Linked DNA regions of Homo sapiens. The protein of the gene in region 1 purifies or fractionates together with the protein of each later gene. This does not show direct contact. Each region holds a gene or a part of one and is shown in the gene's direction. Other genes may lie near its edges.

The links. The genes of interacting proteins can lie anywhere in the genome.
Region 2: the proteins of CDK8 (region 1) and MED31 purify together in Homo sapiens (affinity purification with mass spectrometry; 7 studies listed by BioGRID and IntAct, with this or other methods). This does not show direct contact.
Region 3: the proteins of CDK8 (region 1) and MED7 purify together in Homo sapiens (affinity purification with mass spectrometry; 9 studies listed by BioGRID and IntAct, with this or other methods). This does not show direct contact.

The regions. Positions count from the first base shown.
Region 1 is NC_000013.11:26,347,201-26,356,185, forward strand, and holds part of CDK8 (cyclin-dependent kinase 8), read left to right. Parts: intron 1-1,871; coding exon 1,872-1,982; intron 1,983-6,539; coding exon 6,540-6,680; intron 6,681-8,985.
Region 2 is NC_000017.11:6,642,811-6,649,597, reverse strand, and holds the end of MED31 (mediator of RNA polymerase II transcription subunit 31), read left to right. Parts: intron 1-4,938; coding exon 4,939-5,131; 3' UTR 5,132-6,287; downstream 6,288-6,787. Other genes in the region: TXNDC17 (thioredoxin domain-containing protein 17), read right to left, coding at 6,579-6,647. UniProt on the Homo sapiens protein: Component of the Mediator complex, a coactivator involved in the regulated transcription of nearly all RNA polymerase II-dependent genes.
Region 3 is NC_000005.10:157,136,924-157,140,857, reverse strand, and holds the end of MED7 (mediator of RNA polymerase II transcription subunit 7), read left to right. Parts: intron 1-1,409; 5' UTR 1,410-1,426; coding exon 1,427-2,128; 3' UTR 2,129-3,434; downstream 3,435-3,934. UniProt on the Homo sapiens protein: Component of the Mediator complex, a coactivator involved in the regulated transcription of nearly all RNA polymerase II-dependent genes.

The DNA.
Region 1 (8,985 bases):
ATGAGATGAGAAAGCACAAACCCATGAAAATATGCTCTCCTGGATGCTTCTCTCTACGTTCTTTGTTATTTTATGAAAAGTTACAAAATTTTAATCAACTTTACTATGTAATTTAAATGCCTGAAATTAGGTGCTGTATCTCACAGGGTTGCTGAACTTAATTTTCATATGATAATTGATGTTAATGAATGTTGCATCTTCTAATGTTGCAAATATTCTTTGATATTTTCTAAAAAGGATTACAAACTACAGATTTGTTTCAAGTTCAATTGTTATGTGATGTCAAAGCCTAGACAACTTGCAGAATGGGAGAAAGTTTTATAAATCATATATTTGATAAGGGATTAGTATCTAGACTATGTAAAGAACTCCTGCAACTCAGCAGCAACAACAAAACAACCTGATTCAAAAATGGGCAAAAGACATACTAAATAGACATTTCTCCAAAGACGATCTACAAATGGTCAGTAAGCACATGAAAAGATGTTCGACACCATTATTGACTAGGCAAATGCAAACCAAAACCATAGTGAGATACTACTTCATACTCATTAGGATATATGTTAATTTTTAAGGGAAAAAAGGGAGAAATAACCAGTGTTGGTGAGGATATGAAGAAATTGGAACCTTCATACATTGCAGATGGGAATGTAAAATGGTACAGCTGCAAGTTTGGTGGTTTCTCAGAAAGTTAAACACAGAGCAATCATTTGATCCAGGATTTCCACTTTTAGGTTTATGCTCAAAGCATTGAAAGCAGGGACTTTCATCAGATAGTGTATACCACTGTTCATAGCAGCATTAATCACAATAACCAGAGGTGAAAACAATCCATGAACATCAACAGATGAATGGATAAACAAAATGTGATATCTATATATATATCTATATAGATATATATATAGATATGCATAGAGTGGAGTATATTTATCCATAAAGAATGAAATAGGCTAAGTGAAATAAGCCTGGCATGAAAGGATACATATTGTATGGTTCCACTTACATGAAATATCTAGATTAGGAAGATTCTTAGGGACAGATAGTAGAGTAGAGGTTACCAGAGCCTTGGGGAAAAAGGCGGTGGGATTATTGTGTAACGCAGGGGTCCCTGCGTCAGCACCGGTACGTTAGGAATTGGGCCGTACAGCAGGAGGTGAGCCACAGGCAAGCGAGCATTACCACCTGAGCTCTGCCTCCTGTCAGATTAGCAGTGGCATTAGATTCTCATAGGAGCTTGAACACTATTGTGAACTGCGCATGTGAAGGATCTAGGTTGCATGCTCCTTATGAGAATCTAATGCCTAATGAATGATCTGAGGTGAAACGGTTTCATCTTGAAACCATCCACCATCTGCCCCTTCCCCCAGCCCCCGCCCTGCACCTCCACCCCATTATCCGTGGAAAATTTGTCTTCCTCAAAAATGGTTTCTGATGCCAAAAAGGTTGGGAACCGCTGGTTTAATGGATTCAGAGTTTCTGTTTGGGATGACAAAAAAAATTCTAAAATGGATAGTGGTGGTGATCGCAGAACATTGTGAATATACTTATAGGATGCCACTGAATTGTACACTTAAAAATGATTAAAATGGTCTTTTTATGTTAGATATATTTTACCACAATCAAAAAATTAAAATAACCAACCAAACAACAACAAAATAGATTTACTCAGATAATACCTGTTCAGTGTCTTTTCCTCACAGATATCTTCTCATTTGTTACTGAAGTATCCGTCTCAGAATTGTGTGGGTGCTTATTAGATGTTTAAGATTGTTTACCTGTGGGTTTGTATTGCCTTTGAATTACAAATGGTGTGGGGTTTTTTACATTATTTTTGTGACAGAAATAGTTAATGCATCTCCTTTGTTTTGCAGTTACTTCGAGAGCTTAAGCATCCAAACGTCATTTCTCTTCAAAAGGTGTTTCTGTCTCATGCTGATAGGAAGGTGTGGCTTCTGTTTGACTATGCTGAACATGACCTCTGGGTAAGGTGAATTGCTGGCAGACATGAGCAAACAGTCAGGGATTGTTAAGAGTAACTAAAAACAGTTAGGTGTTCTGCTTATTATGAGACTTATGTTTTTAAAATAAAAGTAACCTCATAGAGTGTGGTTGGTGGCATGACGAAGGCTAGAGTATTTGACTTTGTATTATTACTTTTCAATATTGTCACTTTGATCTTTTAACAGATACTAAAGAAAACAATAGAATCTAAAGAGTGTTCAACAACTATTCAATATTGCTTCATATAGTTTTTTGATAAAATAAAAAGTAACTAATATATATAAAATTTTGCTCTAAAATAGAAAAGTAGCATATTTCCTTTTATTTCGTTGTATAAAGGGAACATAAAATGAGAAGGTGGTATCCTCATGTAGGAGGACGAATATGCTATCTTTGGAGAGATCTAATAGTTCTACCATTATTTGTCGTATAGCATTAAGCAAGTCTTTTAATGGCTTTGAAGCTGTAGTTTACCCCATCTGTAAAATGTAATACTTTCTTGCCTTTTTTAACAACGTTTTTCTGAGGAACAATCTTGTATTTGAAAAGTTTTATAAATATACAAATGTAGGAAACTGTTATTAATTATTAACTATTCACAATTGAATTTAATATCCTAATTCTTATTTTCAGTGGCAGTAGTTCAATACAGTATAGTCATGCGCCATATAATGTTATTGTCAACTAGGGACTGCATATATGATAGTGGTCTCCTAAGATTATAGTACCATATTGTTACTGTACCTTTTCTATGTTTACATATGTTTAGATAACACACTTATTTACTATTGTGTCACAATTGCCTTCCTTATTCAGTACAGTAACATGTACAGGTTTGTAGCCTAGGAGCAGGAGGCTATAACATATAGCCTAGGTTTGTAGTAGAGTCTATCATCTAGGTTTGTGTAAGTACAGTCTGTGATGTTTACACAACTGCAAAATTGCCTAACGACACATTTTTCAGAATGTATCCCTTCATTAAGTGATGCATGACTGTATTGTACTTACTTGAATTGGGCATAATCTTGCATTGGAGGAATTTTTTGTGGATGAGAGCTCTATTACAAAATAAGATTCGTGTGAAAATAAATTTTAATATCTCTTGGGACTTTTAGTTCTTTGTTTTCTGACCTATGATAAGAATAGTTTTAGGCCAAGTGTAGTGGGTCACACCTGTAGTCCCAACACTTTGGGAGGCCAAGACAGGAAGATCACTTGAGCCAAAGTGTTTGAGACAAGCCTGGGTCACATGGCAAGACCCTGTCTCTGCAAAAAATAAAAAAAATTAGCTGGGCTCAGTGGCACATGCTGTGGTCCCAGCTGTTCATGGGGCTGAAGCTCAGGAAGTCGAGGCTGCAGTGGGTCCTGTTTGCACTGTTGCACTCCAGCCCGGCTAATTTTTGTATTTTTAGTAGAGACAGGGTTTCACCATGTTGGCCAGGCTGGTCTCTTAACTCCTGATGTCAGGTGATCTGCCCACCTCGGCCTCCCAAAGTGCTGAGATTACAGGCCTGAGCCACTGAGCCCAGCCAGTTTATTAGTTTATCTAATGCATTGCAGAAAATGATGCTATATTGAAAAAAATTACTGTAAAATAAGAACTTAATTTTATCTTGTCTGAGTAGCTGAAATACAAACACCAGCCTCAGTATTTTGCAGTTTACTAAGCAGATTATTTTTTAAATTGGTATTTGAGGAACTCTAAGGTAACTATAAAATTTGCTCTTTTATTAAATATAACATTTATATATTTTTTAAAAATCTGAAACGTTACCTTGCAGATAAAACTTTGAGATATATATATAGAAAATCTATAATAGGATAGCCAAAGTAATTTTGAAACATAGTAACAAAATTGACATTCTTATCAATCTGTATAGAGAACATCTGTTAATACAGATTATAGTTTAAGAAACAAGTAAACTAAACATCTAACATTACCTTGTGTTAATTCATTAAGAATTACTATACTCCTGTGAACTGCTTTTTAAATGATATTTAATAATGTCTTTAAACATTGTATTGATTTGCATACTAATCTATATTTACTAAATTAGCATGGCTATGCTTTTTATTATGTATACATGAAATTTTCTCTCTTTTATGAAACTCTTTCCAAAGTTCATGCTGGTTATTAATTTCTTCTTTTTTTTTAAATCTTTGGTTCTTCTGTTCTTCTATTTTAAAAGAAATCTAATCAGATCAACCCTGTTAAATCAGCGTGGCCAGTATTAAATTGAACACTCACTATGCTGAGCCTCATAAGAAATAAAGTCATATAATTTAAACTTAAGGCATTTTCCAGGCTGGTTTATAAACAAGATTTGTGATAAACCACAGTAGAGCATAGAAGATAGTATAATATTTCACTCAATGTGATTTCTAGCTGCTAGTTTGTAATATTTAATTTTACATGTAGGTACAATGATTATACTTCAGCAAATTTTATTGTGGGTAATATTGTACAGTGCATATAACTAGTTCATTAGCTTTATCATCATCTTAATAATATTTAAGCCAAATAAATATTTTTAATGTTCATTTTCATAAAAAACAAATGATAATTTAGCCTACTAAAACCCACTCCTTTATCTATTTTAATTGGAATGTTGAAGTGAATTGGTAGGGGTTAGGCAGCAGAGGGTAACAAGGCAGTCGCAATAAAAATAGTTATTTTTAAAAATCACTTAGGCGTTGGTGAGATTTCATGGTATGTATATTTTGCATTTGTTATGTAGCCCTGGAATATAAAGAAAATGACAGTAGGATTTGTCATTTTAAAACATTGGTAAAAAAAGTCACTTGTAATACTCTAATGAAAGTGTACATGAAGAAATATATATGAAATTGATTAATTACCTTACCTCTCCTACATATTTGTTCCTTTGATTCTTACTGCGGCAGAGTTTTAATTTTTTTTTTTTCAAAAAATTAACCTATTTTATTTTTATTTATATTTATTTTACCTGTTTTTATTAAGCTTGGAGAGAGCCAAAGAATCTTCTTCTTGTTTTTTTTGTTTGTTTGTTTTTGAGATGGAGTCTCGCTCTGTCGCCCAGGCTGGAGAGCGGTGGCAGGATCTCCACTCACTGCAAGCTCCGCCTTCCAGGTTCACGCCATTCTCCTACCTCAGCCTCCCGAGTAGCTGGGACTACAGGTGCCTGCCACCACTCCCGGCTAATTTTTTGTATTTTTTAGTAGAGACGGGGTTTCACCGTGTTAGCCAGGATGGTCTTGATCTCCTGACCTCGTGATCCACCCGCCTCAGCCTCCCAAAGTTCTGGGATTACAGGCGTGAGCCACCATGCCCGGCCCAAGAATCTTCTTCTTAAGGAGAACAGACTTGATTGTCACATCATATTTTAGGACAGGTGACAAAACAGCCTAGATTATTAAATTGTTGTAGCTCTGTTTTGTTTGCCTGCTATTAAATACTTTGAAAAAAAGACTGAGAAGAAAATTAAAGTAGATTAATGCTGCTAATTTAGATTAGTCATACTACATATGTGCAAACTGCTACACTTTACCTTCTCGTAGATATTTGCTATATATTTTTACCTTGGAGAGTAAAGCTCCTTTATTCATTAATCATTAGTTATTCCTTACTTGTGTCATATTCTGTATATCATAAGAAAATAGCAAGTGAAAATGTTAACTTATAATGTTAAATATCTCTTATTTTTATTATGTCTACTAATTTCAAGAACATGCTTAATATTTACTTACATGTATTGGCCAAGGGTCTGCTCTGTGCAATATTAGGTTCAGGGATATGTACAGTGGTGTGCAAGGCATAGTTTACTGCAGCCGAGTTATAGATTTTCCTGCAATTTAAGAGTGATCTAATTAAGAAAATGAGTCCTATCAAGAGCATTTGAAACTTTTCAAGAAAAAACTTGTAAGGCACATTTATTCATAAAGTAATTTTTCTATGTATAAAGTTGTGCTTTGTTTTACTGGATGTCTAACAACATTATACATAGAAAGCTTTGATGGATGGTACAAGGCAGTTTTTATTTTCCTCAGAATCTTTCCCATTTTTACATTTTTCCATTGTGAACTGGTATATCATTTCTTTGTGCTTGTGTGTATTTTATTGAAGCATCTCCCCACTTGCTTTCTTTATAACCTGTGTCATAAATAGGTTCTAATTCTATGCTATGTCAACCAGCCAGAAGTATCTCTTGAATTTTGTTCTTTTTTTTTTTTCATTTTATCTACCAGATAAACAGGAATCAAGTATACTCTGAAAGTAATTGATTTTTAATTATGCTTTAAAAATAAAAGCACAATATTTTCTGATTCCCTATTGTGATAATTTATCTCCTGAAATGCTGTCATATGGGTAGGAAATGGAATTTTAGCCCCAGTTATTAGGGAATTTTAAAGTTGTTTATGTTATTCAGCAGAGTACGAAATTATATTTTCAATATCTATGGGAATCCCTGAGTGTTTCTTTTTCTGTTAGGAAAATATTATACATCAAATTATCTTTTCCTTTTTTTAAGCTTCTGTTGATATTTTTTTCTTTCTTTCAGCATATAATCAAGTTTCACAGAGCTTCTAAAGCAAACAAGAAGCCAGTTCAGTTACCTCGGGGAATGGTGAAGTCACTATTATATCAGATCCTAGATGGTATTCACTACCTGCATGCTAACTGGGTGTTGCACAGAGATTTGGTAAGTTGACCTGTAATTGGTTTAAACTAGAAAGATGCATTACAGTTGGATACTTTTCTAGTCGTCTGTAGATACCAGTGCTATATGTAGGCCTGCAAACCTTATAGAAGTAGTGAGAATGCTACCTTCTCAAAACATGGCCTAGTAGTGTTTTTATATAATGCCTCCTGCTTCTCTGACATACACTAGATGGTATTTATTTCAAAGTGAAAGAAGAGACATTTGTGTTCCTAAGCTTCTGTTTCCTTTTAAGTTCATAAATAAAGCATTGGCTTGCTTTAAATTGATTATTAGATACAAGGCCAACTGTAGAAATTTATATATTTATAATAACTTGAAAATAAAATTTTGGGAGCCTACTGCATACTAATTTACATATTAGAAAAGGAAAATGTTAATTCAATATGCTTATATTTTAAGCCCCTCTATATTAGCAGTCTGTTGGCCAATCACCTTTATTAATCATAATTGAAGTATATTATTAGAAGCCTTGCTGTGTTCAGGTGCATTGAACTTTTGAGAATTTAAAAACTTAAGAAACTGACTTTTTAATTTTACGTTGCAAAGTCATTTATGCCTTTTTTCACCCATCTTGCACAGGGGTCCCCAACCCCCAGGCCACAGACCAGTCCATGGCTCATTAGGGACCAGGCCACACAGCAGGAGGTGAGCGGTGGGTGAGCATTACCACCTGAGCTCCGCCTCCTGTCAGATCAGTGGCAGCATTAGATTCTCATAGGAGCCAGAACCCTATTGTGAACTGCACATGCGGGGGATCTAGATTGCACGCTCCTTATGAGAATCTAGCTAATGCCTTATGATCTGAGGTGGTACAGTTTCATACTGAAACCATCCCCTCCCACCCCGCTCCGTGGAAAAACTTCTTCCATGAAACTGGTCCCTGATGCCAAAAAGGTTGGGGACTGCTGGTCTAGCATATTATTATTCATTAAATTTTCATGGATTTAAATTACCTAAACTTCAAATTGCCCTTTCTTACTACATAATTACATTGCTTTTATAGTTCTTTTCTTTGTAAAGATAGTAACTATATAATAAGGTTTATAAAGGCACCTTCATTTCAAACAAATATAAACACAATGCTAAAAGTGATTATTTTGTCTCTAATCACCTGTATACAAAGGAAATATCCTGTAGGCTATGAGGCGGAGCCCATCTGGTCTCTCGCAAAGATGTTCTTCACAAATTTAGTGGATTTAGTCTCTGGCCTTCAATGTGCTGTTCCAGTGGCACAGTTTATACTTCTTTCTTCTAGCTTTAGGGAATTGCCTTGTAGTACATTTGATGTTAGTTACTTTATCTCCAGTTCTCATACCTACAAAGCATTTAGACTAGGACCAGTAACAGCAGAAATTTGGTTGAACTTGTTTCTTTATGCAAACTTTTATTTTTAATACAGTTAGAATATTTCACTTATAAAAATAGATTTACAGGCCAGGCACAGTGGTTCATGCCTATAATCCCAGCACTTTGGGAGGCCAAGGCGGGTGGATCACGAGGTCAGGAGTTCAAGATCAGGCTGGCCAAGATGGTGAAACCCCGTCTCTACTAAAAATACAAAAAATTAGCTGGGTGTGGTGGTGGGCACCTGTAATCCCAGCTACTCGGGAGGCTGAGGCAGAGAATTACTTGAACGCAGGAAGCTGAGGTTGCAGTGAGCCAAGATCGCGCCACTTCACTCCAGCCTGGGCGACAGAGCGAAACTCCATCTCTAAAAAATAAAAGAAAACAAAAAATAGATTTACATAACAGAAATAAGACAAATCCTTTGGCATTTTGTGAAGCTCAAAATAAATTTTGGCCATTGGGGTGGAGTCAAGTTAGGGAAAAACATTTCTACTTTTGAGCTACCAGTCCTTTTTATGATCTCTAAAAGAAAAAACTGTGGCTTAAGGACATTTTTTTCCCCGTAGAGTCAGTTATGCTAAGATAGCTCTACATTTTCTTTTTCTTGTAAATTTTTTTTTCACTTGAAATACATATGTATATTAGGTAAATACAGACTGGTTTTTAAAACCAATATTTAAATTTCATGTAATAATATAAATATACTTAAGCCACTTAGATTAGTATTAAGTATGGTAGTGAAAATTATGATACCGAGTTTCTTTTATCTCTCTTATGGTAAAGCTCTTCCTGCTAATGCATCTTAAGTAGATTCTCTTTGACATAGGGGTAGTATAGAACAGATCATTTCAGAAGGCTCTGTCTGTTAGTGGTGTACTAAGTGGTGGAAAGTGGAAGGATTGGTGCCCCCTAATATAGGCAACAAGGGATGCATTAT
Region 2 (6,787 bases), on another chromosome or scaffold:
CCCTGCCTTTTCTGACCTTGTCTTTTACCACCCTTCCCATCTCACCAGGTTTCTGGTCCCTAAGAACTCACAATCTGTAAATGTAGTAGCATAAGCCATGGGCTGAAATTAAAAGAGGGTATCTGTAAGGAAGGTGTTTCTGGGGTTATTTGAAGGAGGTGATCTTACCTGAGTCTTAGAGTTGCTGTCTTTTATTTAAGGCCTCTTATTTGCCAGGAACAGTGCTAAATGCTTCATATGCATTAACTCATTTATATATATATATTTACCATTCAGGTCGTTCAGCAGACACTTTCATGTTAAGGCTTACTAAGTTGCAAGAAACATATTATAACCACAAAGCAATTCCCTTTTAATGGTTAAAAAAAAAAAACAAAAAAAACAAAAAAAACCAACCCACCTTGAACTCACACCCCTGCTTTGTCTTAAGCAGGTAGAAAGCAATAATGAACCTTTAAAAAAAAAAAAAAGTTTGAGAGGAAAATGTTTCAAACTTCTCTCAAAGTCACTTTTCTGTGTCCAATAACAATTGACTCACGAAGCACATACGTCTTATGTTGCCTGCAGGACCGTTTGCACCTTTTCTGGCTTTTTATCCATTTAATAATCCAAAGAACAGACTTTTAAGAAAAGTAGACTTCAACGAATATTGTATGTATGTAGATTTACAGACTCAGTGTTGGAAGCCTTAGCCACCAACAAGTTTAATCTTACCCACAACGTTGCCGAGAGATGGTCATCTACACTCTGGAGGTTTCCATTGAGCCCGTGTTACTCTGTCAGGGACAGCTGATTCGATTGTTAGCCAGATATTAGAAAGTTCTTCCTTATATTGTGATATAATGTACCTCCTTGTAGCCCCAGTCTGTTTGTCCCTGGATGAAGCTAGAACCATTCTATACCCTCTTGAGGACAACAGCCTTCCAGATATTTACATTCAAGAGAGACTGCAAATTAGCCCCTTTTGGGTGTTTTATTCAGTCTGCAGAAGATTTTAGTTTTTTTAATACTTGCCAACATTTAAAGATCAGAAAGTTGTATATAACAAATGCAGATTTCCAGCTACTCTTTCAAATCTGGAAGATCTAGTAACCATAGATCTTAATTCTCCCAAGTCAACAACTGGGCTGAAGCTGAGAGCAGCTGTCACTACTAGCTGCTTTCCACCTGGTGGAAGAGACACTTTCTACCACTTGGCCTGCTTCATTGATAGCCAGTAGGTGCCACTATAACATCTCTCTTCCATCTATTTTTCTCAACTACCCTCTGCCATTGTGCCATGGTGTCCAGAGTTCTCATGAGTTGAGGTTCCCTCCTTTGGATATTTGGCAGTTGTACTTTATGCAGTTCAGCCAAGAACTAAACACAGGCCTTCAGGTGTGGTCAGAGTACAGTGGGCCAGAGGTCCTTTCTTTTCTTCATGTGGTCATACACCTCTGTTAATTCAACTTAAGTTTATATTACTTTTGGGGGTGGGAGTGGGGAAGAGGATCACATTGTTGACTTGCTGGAAGCATTATGTCAACTAAAATCCTTCAGTTCTTATTTTCATCATGCTGTTGGGTTCTCCCTATGTTGTTTCTTTTTAAAAACACCAAATGCAGAACTTCCCTTTTATACTGCTTCTATTTCATCTTGTTGACTTGTAGCCTATCAGAGTATGATTCTTTATTGTCATCTAAGGTATTCTGATATAATCACTGCATGTCTAAATTCTAGTTATTGACTAAATGCTACTTGAGACCATTCTCTTGGTTGTCACATTATTTTACAGTTGAAGAAACTGAACCTTAGAGAGGTTAAGTACCTTGTTAAAGGCCACCTGGCTGGAACATAACATCCTGGTCATTTTAACTACTAATGCTGTCATGAAAGGGAGTTAGCCAGGGCAGGTGTGAATAGAGCATTCTAGCATAAGCAGCCAACAATTAGAGCAACTGTGTATTTTTAGTGTGTGGATAGCAAATCTTTGCTGTCTTGGAAGTTACTATCTTAGAAGCATGGTATTAAGCCCTCTATTCAATGTGGTGTTCACATCAGTAGCATTGGTTTCATTTGGGAGCTTTTTAGAAATGCAGAGCTCAGGCCCCACTCCAGGCCTAAGGATTCAATCTGCATTTTAAGAAGTGACCCATATACACATTAAAGTTTTAGAAGCATTGCTGTAGTATCCTATTTTCCACACTTTAGTCATTTGCATATCACTTGTGCAACTTTGGCTTTATCTGCATACTTCCTGAAGGGGGCCTGCCCCTCCACACCTGTGGGTATTTCTCGTCAGGTGGAGATGAAAGAATGAGAAAAGAAATAAGACACAAAGTATAGAGAAAGAACAGTGGGCCCAGGGGACCGGCACACTCAGCATGCGAGGACCCGCACCAGTGCCGGTCTCTGAGTTCCTTCAGTATTTATTGATCATTATTTTTACTGTCTTGGCGAGGCGAGTGTAGCAGGGCAACAGGTGGCGAGAAGGTCAGCAGGGAAACGTGAGCAAAGGAATCTGTATCATGAATAAGTTCAAGGAAAGGTACTGTGCCTGGATGTGCACATAGGCTAGATTTATGTTTCACTTTACACAAATATCTAACTAGCAGAGAGCAACAAAGCAGTATTGCTGCCAGCATATCTCGCCTCCAGCCACAGGGCGGTTTTCTCCTATCTCAGAATAGAACGAATGGGAATGGTCGACTTTACACTAAGACATTCCATTCCCAGGGACGAGCAGGAGACAGAAGCCTTCATCTTATCTCAACTGCAAAGAGGCCTCCCTCTTTCACTACTCCTCCTCAGCACAGACCCTTTACAGGTGTCGGGCTGGGGGATGTAAGGTCTTTCCTTTCCCACGAGGCCATATCTCAGGCTGTCTCAGTTGGGGGAAACCTGGACAATACCCAGGCTTTTCTGGGCAGGGGTCCCTGCGGCCTTCCGCAGTGCATTGTGTCTCTGGTTAATCGAGAATGGAGAATGGCGATGGCTTTTACCAAGCATACTGCCTGCAAACATATTGTTAACAAGGCACATCCTGCACAGCCCTAAATCCATTAAACCTTGATTCAATATAGCACATGTTTCTGGGGGCACAGAGTTGGGGCTAAATTTACAGATTAACAGCATCTCAAAGCAGAACAATTTTTCTTAGTACAGATCAAAATGGAGTTTCTTATGTCTTCCTTTTCTACGTAGACACAGGAACAATCTGATCTCTTTTCCCCACACTTCCTATATGTTAATGTATTTTAATTGTCTGTTAGCTTTTATGTCTTTTCAACTTGAAATAATTTCACTTACAAAATAGCTGGAAAAATAGTAAAGATAATTCCTGTATTTTGTTCACCCACGTATTCCAAATGTGTAACACTACAATCAGCAAAAATCAGCACATTAATATTATTACCTAATCTACAGACCTCATTCACATTTTGCCAGTTGTTCTGCTGGTGTGCTGTATGTAGTGCAGGATCCAGTCTAGGCCCGTATGTTGCATTTTGCTGTCATGTCTTCTTAGTCTCCTTTCATCTCAGTGGTCTTTTCTTTTCCATGACTATGACAGAAATGATTTGTATCCTTCATATATCTGCAGTCACATGAAGTCTATTTGTCCCACTACTGGTGACGTAAATTTTGGTAACTTGGTTGAGGGTGGTACCGTCTAGGTTTCTCCATATTAAGTTGCTATTTTTCCTTGTGTATTTAATAAGTATCTTATAGGGAAATCCTTTGAGACTATGTAAATATCATATTACATGTATTTTGCCTGTTTTAGCATCTTTTGAAGATAATTGCCTGAAACATTTTTTACTGTGATGATTTTCTAATTCTATCATTCTGCATTTATTAGTTTGGAATTCGATTGTAAGGAATTATATTCCCTTGTTTCCTATTATTTTATTAAAGAAATTTACATCCATTTAGTGTGGACTTTTGGATTCTTATTTTTAGTAGAATTATGAATTAGAATTATGTATTTTCTTGCGCTAAGTATTCCAGATTTGGCCATTGGGAGGCCCTTCAAGTTGGCTCCTGAATACTTTTGATCCTCCCAGGAATTTTTAGCACTTTTTCTTCTGGCACTACGTAATGTTCCAGGCTCATCTTGTACTTTTCCTGTCTTATCCCTGAATCACCCTTTTCTCCAAGGAAACCTGCTCCTTGGAAACCACAGTCTGGTCATTGTGTGTTCATTAGTACCACAGTGTCATTGCTTCTAGGCCCTGTCAGTACACAAAGCTCAAGAACTATATATATATGTATGTATGTGTATACATGCACACACATATACATGTTTATTCTATGTCTATATTAAAAGCCGTAAGTACATACTGATGTTTTCAATACCAGCTCAGTAACACAGGGTTCATTCTAGCCTTTTTCCTTTCCATGTCTATAACTCCTTTTCTGATAGCCAGAAATTTGGCTGTCCTTATCCACAGTATATTTGCTTGTCCAATCCTAGAGTATATCTAATTTCAGAATTGGTATATCCCTGTGGACAACAAGAGTACAATGTATGCGCATAGTCCTCTTTCACACTCACTTTTAAATGAAAGTTGTCTTTTTATCCCTATTGAAGGAAAAATGAGTAACTATCAATTAAACACATAATTACTAAAATATGTTCATGTTCTTCACGTTGGAAACCGCTAGAAGGGAATAGCATGGTTTGTCCCTAAATTTTCACTCTGCTTACCAGTTACTGTGTTGTGTGGTCTTGAGCAAGTTAATTTAATCTTTCTGAACTTAAACCTTCTCATTTTCGAAAATATTGAACACTGACCTTTGATGACTAATCGGGGAAAAAACCCTATGCTACCAGAGTGTACTAAGTTACTGTTATAGAAATGGTAGGCTACAAGATCGTTTTTAAGAGAATAACTGAATTATACCTTGGCATTATTTACCTAAATTATGTTGTTCATTCACTTACAAACTTAAACCCAGGTACCCTCAGTGTTTACACATGTTAGAGCTGCTCCAATATGAACACTTCCGAAAGGAGCTGGTGAATGCTCAGTGTGCGAAATTTATTGATGAACAGCAGATTCTACATTGGCAGCACTATTCCCGGAAGCGGATGCGCCTTCAGCAAGCCTTGGCAGAGCAGCAACAGCAAAATAACACATCGGGAAAATGAAAAACTGGATACAAACGAGGCACTTAATACATGTATATAATGTATTTCTTTTGTACAGTGAAGACAAAAAAAATGAAAACTCTTCCTATCTACCTTTATTATGGTAGCCCCTAGAACCTTTAGTGTGCTTTTTCATCCAACTTTTTATTGTTAATAGACTATTTCTGTTAAACCTGAATTGTTCTTTGATTTCCCTGTGGATTTGTAAGGTGTTTTTCTTTTTTACGCATTTAGCATAATCAGCTGATTAAGAATGGAAAAGTTAGGTGCTTTAGACCAAATAAGGCACTGGGGCATGGGGTAGGGGTGGGCCACCAAGTATACTGAATTCTAAGGCTAGCTGTTCCTGACATATAGTAGGGCAAGACCATCTCCTGGAACCTTACTGTCTCAGATCAACTACTCTACCACTCTACTCTAAGATGTAGTGAGAGTAGCGGAGTCACTGACCTCTTTAAATCATAGGACAGGAACTGCATAAAGGTTCTTGAATTCTGCAGGACAGGAAATAACTGTATTACCTGCTTTGCAAGGTGGCTTTAAGAATCACTGAATCACTGTGGCCTCACTTGACCTAGTCATGGCAGGACAACTAGTGGTTAGTTACTAACTGGACTCTTGACTTTAGAACAAACATGAGGAGCCTCAAATACTTGTGTTCATTTGGGAAAGCTACCATTGATTTGGGAGGTACCACAAACCAGGTGCTATGTTAAGTGCTTCCTTGAATTCTCATTTTATTCTAAGAACCTTGTTTATAGAAGAGAAAACTGAGGTTTGGACGGGGTGAGTAACTTGCCTGTGGTTACACAGCTAGTAAGTGGTAGAGTCAGTGTGACTGACTCCCAGCTTGGAGTTCTTCCCAGAACTGGGTTATAGAGTCTTTCCGGCCGCTCTCCGCCACCTGCCTCATCCCAAGTAAAGCACATTGAGACAGCTGCAAAACAAACTGCTTCTAGTGCTCAGGAGTCTGTTTTTTATTAAACAAAACAAAACTGCCTGAATTAAGCAGAGGCTAGATTAGAGGTCATGTGCTTTCCTTCAGTGGTGAGGTTAGGTTCTACATTCCAAAATCAAAGAAGGGGTTTCAGGAATATCATCAGTTGCTTTGCAGATGGAGATAACTTAAAATAAAAGATACTGATCTTTTGAGAGATTTGGAAGGTGTGCTCTGCACCTTTAGGAGTTTTTAGGTATTTCCGTCACCTTCAAGAATACGTTCCTTTGAGCCTTTACTGCTATTTCTGAAGACTTCTTTATATCTTAAAAATATCCATGTATTACAGGCAAACTAAAGGTTCATGGGCATTTTAATAGCACTCTATTGTTTAGACACATGCCAGTTTTTTTAACATCATTTATTGCTAACATGAATTCAAAGCAAGTATACAGTTTATTGATACTAGAACAAATCAGGACATCAAGACATGATTGCCATCCTAAAATCTTAATCTTCAGAGAACAACATTTCCACCAGGTTGGCCTGAAGACACTCAGATTCTACCAGTTTTTGAGGCTGTAAGAGAAAAACAGTCAAATCTTCACTACTTCTATAAAACGTTATTAGGAGTGGAATGAGTTCTGCCTTGAATGACACTCATCTTTGAACACAGAAATTACGCAATTCAGAAACTATCATCTAGTTATAACAAGTTT
Region 3 (3,934 bases), on another chromosome or scaffold:
TTAAAAGTTTTAAAATGTCTGGGTGTGGTGGCTCACGCCTGTAATCCCAGCACTTTGGGAGGCCAAGGCAGGAGGATTGCTTGAGCTCAGGAGTTTGAAACAAGCCTGAGTAACATGGCAAAACTCTGTCTCTACAAAATATACAAAAATTAGCCGGGCTTGGTGACATGCCTGTAGTCCCAGCTGCTTGGGAGGTTGAGGTGGGAGGATCGCTTGAGCCTAGGAGGGCGAGGCTGCATCATCCTATGCACCACTGTGGCATAGTGGAAACTCAGGGCTGCGCCACAGCTGCCCTCAGTACCTCACGAATTCTAAGTATAATATTGCTTCTAGTAGGATACTTGCCCCACCCGATGTTAGAGTGTGTTATATCTTGAAACTCTGATAACACCAATCTAAAGGAGCACTTAAGGATCTTCTCATTGGATGGTATACCTAGGCTTAAGGTAGAATAAGTAGAGGTTATTATGGCCATAGATACTGGGTTTGAACCTGGGGTTTGACATTTCTGTGATAGTTGTAGAGAAGTTAATGTGTCCATACAGGCCAGGCGTGGTGGCTCACGCCTGTAATCCCAGCACTTTGGGAGGCCAAGGTGGGCGGATCACCTGAGATGGGGAGTAAAGAGACCAACCTGGCCAACATGGCAAAATCCCGTCTCTACTAAAAATACAAAAATTAGCCAGACATGGTGCACGCCTGTAATCCCATCTACTTAGGAGGCTGAGGCAGGAGAATTGCTTGAGCCCAGGAGGCGGAGGTTGCAGTGAGCTGAGATCTGAGATTGCACCACTGCACTCTAGCCTGGACATCAGAGCAAGACTCCATCTCAAAAAACAAACAAAAGTTAATGTGTCCATATAAAATTGCATAGTATACTGTGACAAAAAGGGTATGGAACTGAATCATCATTTCATTCAGGAACTTTGGATAATAATGTGTTTAGGATTTAGCAATGTTAATTTTGTCAGAGTGTTTATGAGAGATACAAGTAAGTGTTTGCTATTGGAAATAAATCTATAACATAAAACAAAAGTGATTGTGATATGAGATTGGGAGACAGCCTGTGTAGTTTGGTTATGGAAGAGTAAAGAAATGGGGCATAAGTGGTGAGGGGCATGGAGTCCAGAAGATTTTCTTTAGAGATGAGAGGATGCTACATATTTTTTAATGCTGATGAAATTATTAGAGAGAGAATGGAAAATATGTGAATGGTTGAGAATATAATGCCTACTTAGAAAAGATGGCAGACTTTCCCTATCATAAATGTTAGTTTTAGAAACCAAGGAGATCATCTTGTCTTCGGCCCCAAACTGCTGGAAGAAAAGGAAGAAAATATTCCATCTGTAGTTATGAAATGTAACAGGTTTGTCTTGTGGCTCTAATAAATCTTTGGTCTGTGTCCATAGGTTCTTGATAGTCCACAATGGGTGAACCACAGCAAGTGAGTGCACTTCCACCACCTCCAATGCAATATATCAAGGAATATACGGATGAAAATATTCAAGAAGGCTTAGCTCCCAAGCCTCCCCCTCCAATAAAAGACAGTTACATGATGTTTGGCAATCAGTTCCAATGTGATGATCTTATCATCCGCCCTTTGGAAAGTCAGGGCATCGAACGGCTTCATCCTATGCAGTTTGATCACAAGAAAGAACTGAGAAAACTTAATATGTCTATCCTTATTAATTTCTTGGACCTTTTAGATATTTTAATAAGGAGCCCTGGGAGTATAAAACGAGAAGAGAAACTAGAAGATCTTAAGCTGCTTTTTGTACACGTGCATCATCTTATAAATGAATACCGACCCCACCAAGCAAGAGAGACCTTGAGAGTCATGATGGAGGTCCAGAAACGTCAACGGCTTGAAACAGCTGAGAGATTTCAAAAGCACCTGGAACGAGTAATTGAAATGATTCAGAATTGCTTGGCTTCTTTGCCTGATGATTTGCCTCATTCAGAAGCAGGAATGAGAGTAAAAACTGAACCAATGGATGCTGATGATAGCAACAATTGTACTGGACAGAATGAACATCAAAGAGAAAATTCAGGTCATAGGAGAGATCAGATTATAGAGAAAGATGCTGCCTTGTGTGTCCTAATTGATGAGATGAATGAAAGACCATGAAAGATGTTTCTTTTTCTTTTTTTCCTTTTGATAATAGCATCATATATTAGTTCATTTTCTTTTGGACAGTCTTAAGAGAAGTTTCACTAAAAATGTAAACAGCTTTAATCTTGACTCCAAATTTTTCAATTATGAGATGTCATAGGCAGTAATTTCGCTGTATAACAAGCATAGACAAATGAGTGTCCCTGCACTAAGAAGAATCACTTTAAAAAGCAAAGTGTTAGCTGCTGTTGTATGGGACATTCCTATGTTTTAGAGTTGCAGTAAAACTTTGATGATAACCTCAATAATAGCAAAGTTTTCGTCTTTGAAAAGGGGATTTAGCATTTGCTTTAAGAATGATAGATAAATGGATATTAAGCTCTCTACATGTAAAACTATGAAATCTTTAGACTTATTCCATTAAAAATTTTGCTTAAGCTCCAAAAAGTAGCATAACATGTTGATAGAGAGGAGCCCAGTAGAGTTATAAAATAGAAACTTCATTTTTTCCTCATGACTGCTTCTGTAAACCCACTAGCTCAGTCTTTTCTCCCTATCCTGAATGGACTCTTGCAGGGAAGTCCCATAAATTGTTGTTTTTTTTTCCAGTCACTCAGGTAATAAGTCCTTTGGTCACTTTAAGTTACAGACATTAATTTTAGTAATTAAGATGTCTGTGTCATTAGCTATACATTTTCTTTAAAGCTAAGCTCAGACTTGTTTAAGTCCACAATGGGAAAGGGGTTTGATGGCAGAGACTGCTAGGTGTCTACCAAAGATTCTTGCTCTTTGAAGATATGTTGTCAAGATGTGGCAATCCAGCCAGGGACATTTCCCTACTCCCAGCATCTCTGTGAGAACATATGACTAAGTCGTAGGCGGTGAAATGTGGGCATAGGAATCCAGGCTTGCCCCATAAACATTTCTTGCATGATCCTCCATTCTCTTCTCCCAGCTGCTGGTTGGACGGTCGTATCCAGGATAAGTTTGGAAGCCACCGAAGATGGCAAAGATTGTCAGTCTGGTTCTTTGAATGACCGTGAGGACTAAGTCTTCCTTTCAGTAACTCCACTCTGCCCCTAGCTAATTGGACTTTATATGAGCACTTTCTTCTCTTCTTCCCCCGACTGTCCATCTGCTCTTCCACCAAGGTGTTAGTGGAGAGTTGACCTTGTGTCTGAGGATCTCTGCCTGCCGTTTTCTTAATGTAGGCCCGTGGTTCTTAAAGTGTGTGGTCCTGGACCAGCAGCATTGGTATCACTTGGGGACTTACTAGAAATAAAAGTTTTAGTATAATCCGTAGGTTCAGAAAAATAAAAAATAAATGAGGGTTCTCTGGCTCCATCCCAGACCTTTTGAACCAGAAACTTCTGGGTGTAGGTCCCAGCAAGCTGTATTTTAAGAAGCCTATGTGATTATGATACATGCTCAAGATTAAGAAACATTGAGGCTGGGTGCAGTGGCCCACTCCTGTAATCCCAGCACTTCGGGAGGCTGAGGCTGGTGGATCACCTGAAGTCAGGAGTTCGAGACCAGCCTGACCAACATGGGGAAATCCCATCTCTACTAAAATACAAAATTAGCTGGGCTTGGTGGCGCATGCCTGTAATCCCAGCTACTCGGGAGGCTGAGGCAGGGAGAATCACTTGAATCTGGGAGGCAGAGGTTGTGGTGAGCTGAGATTGCACCATTGCACTCCAGCCTAGGCAACAAGAGCGAAACTCCATCTCAAAAACAAAAAAGAACCATTGAGAGGCAATGCCTTTCCCCAGATGTCTACTTTTTTATTTCTTCCTTAGCCCCTGGTTTCTAGCATAGGGA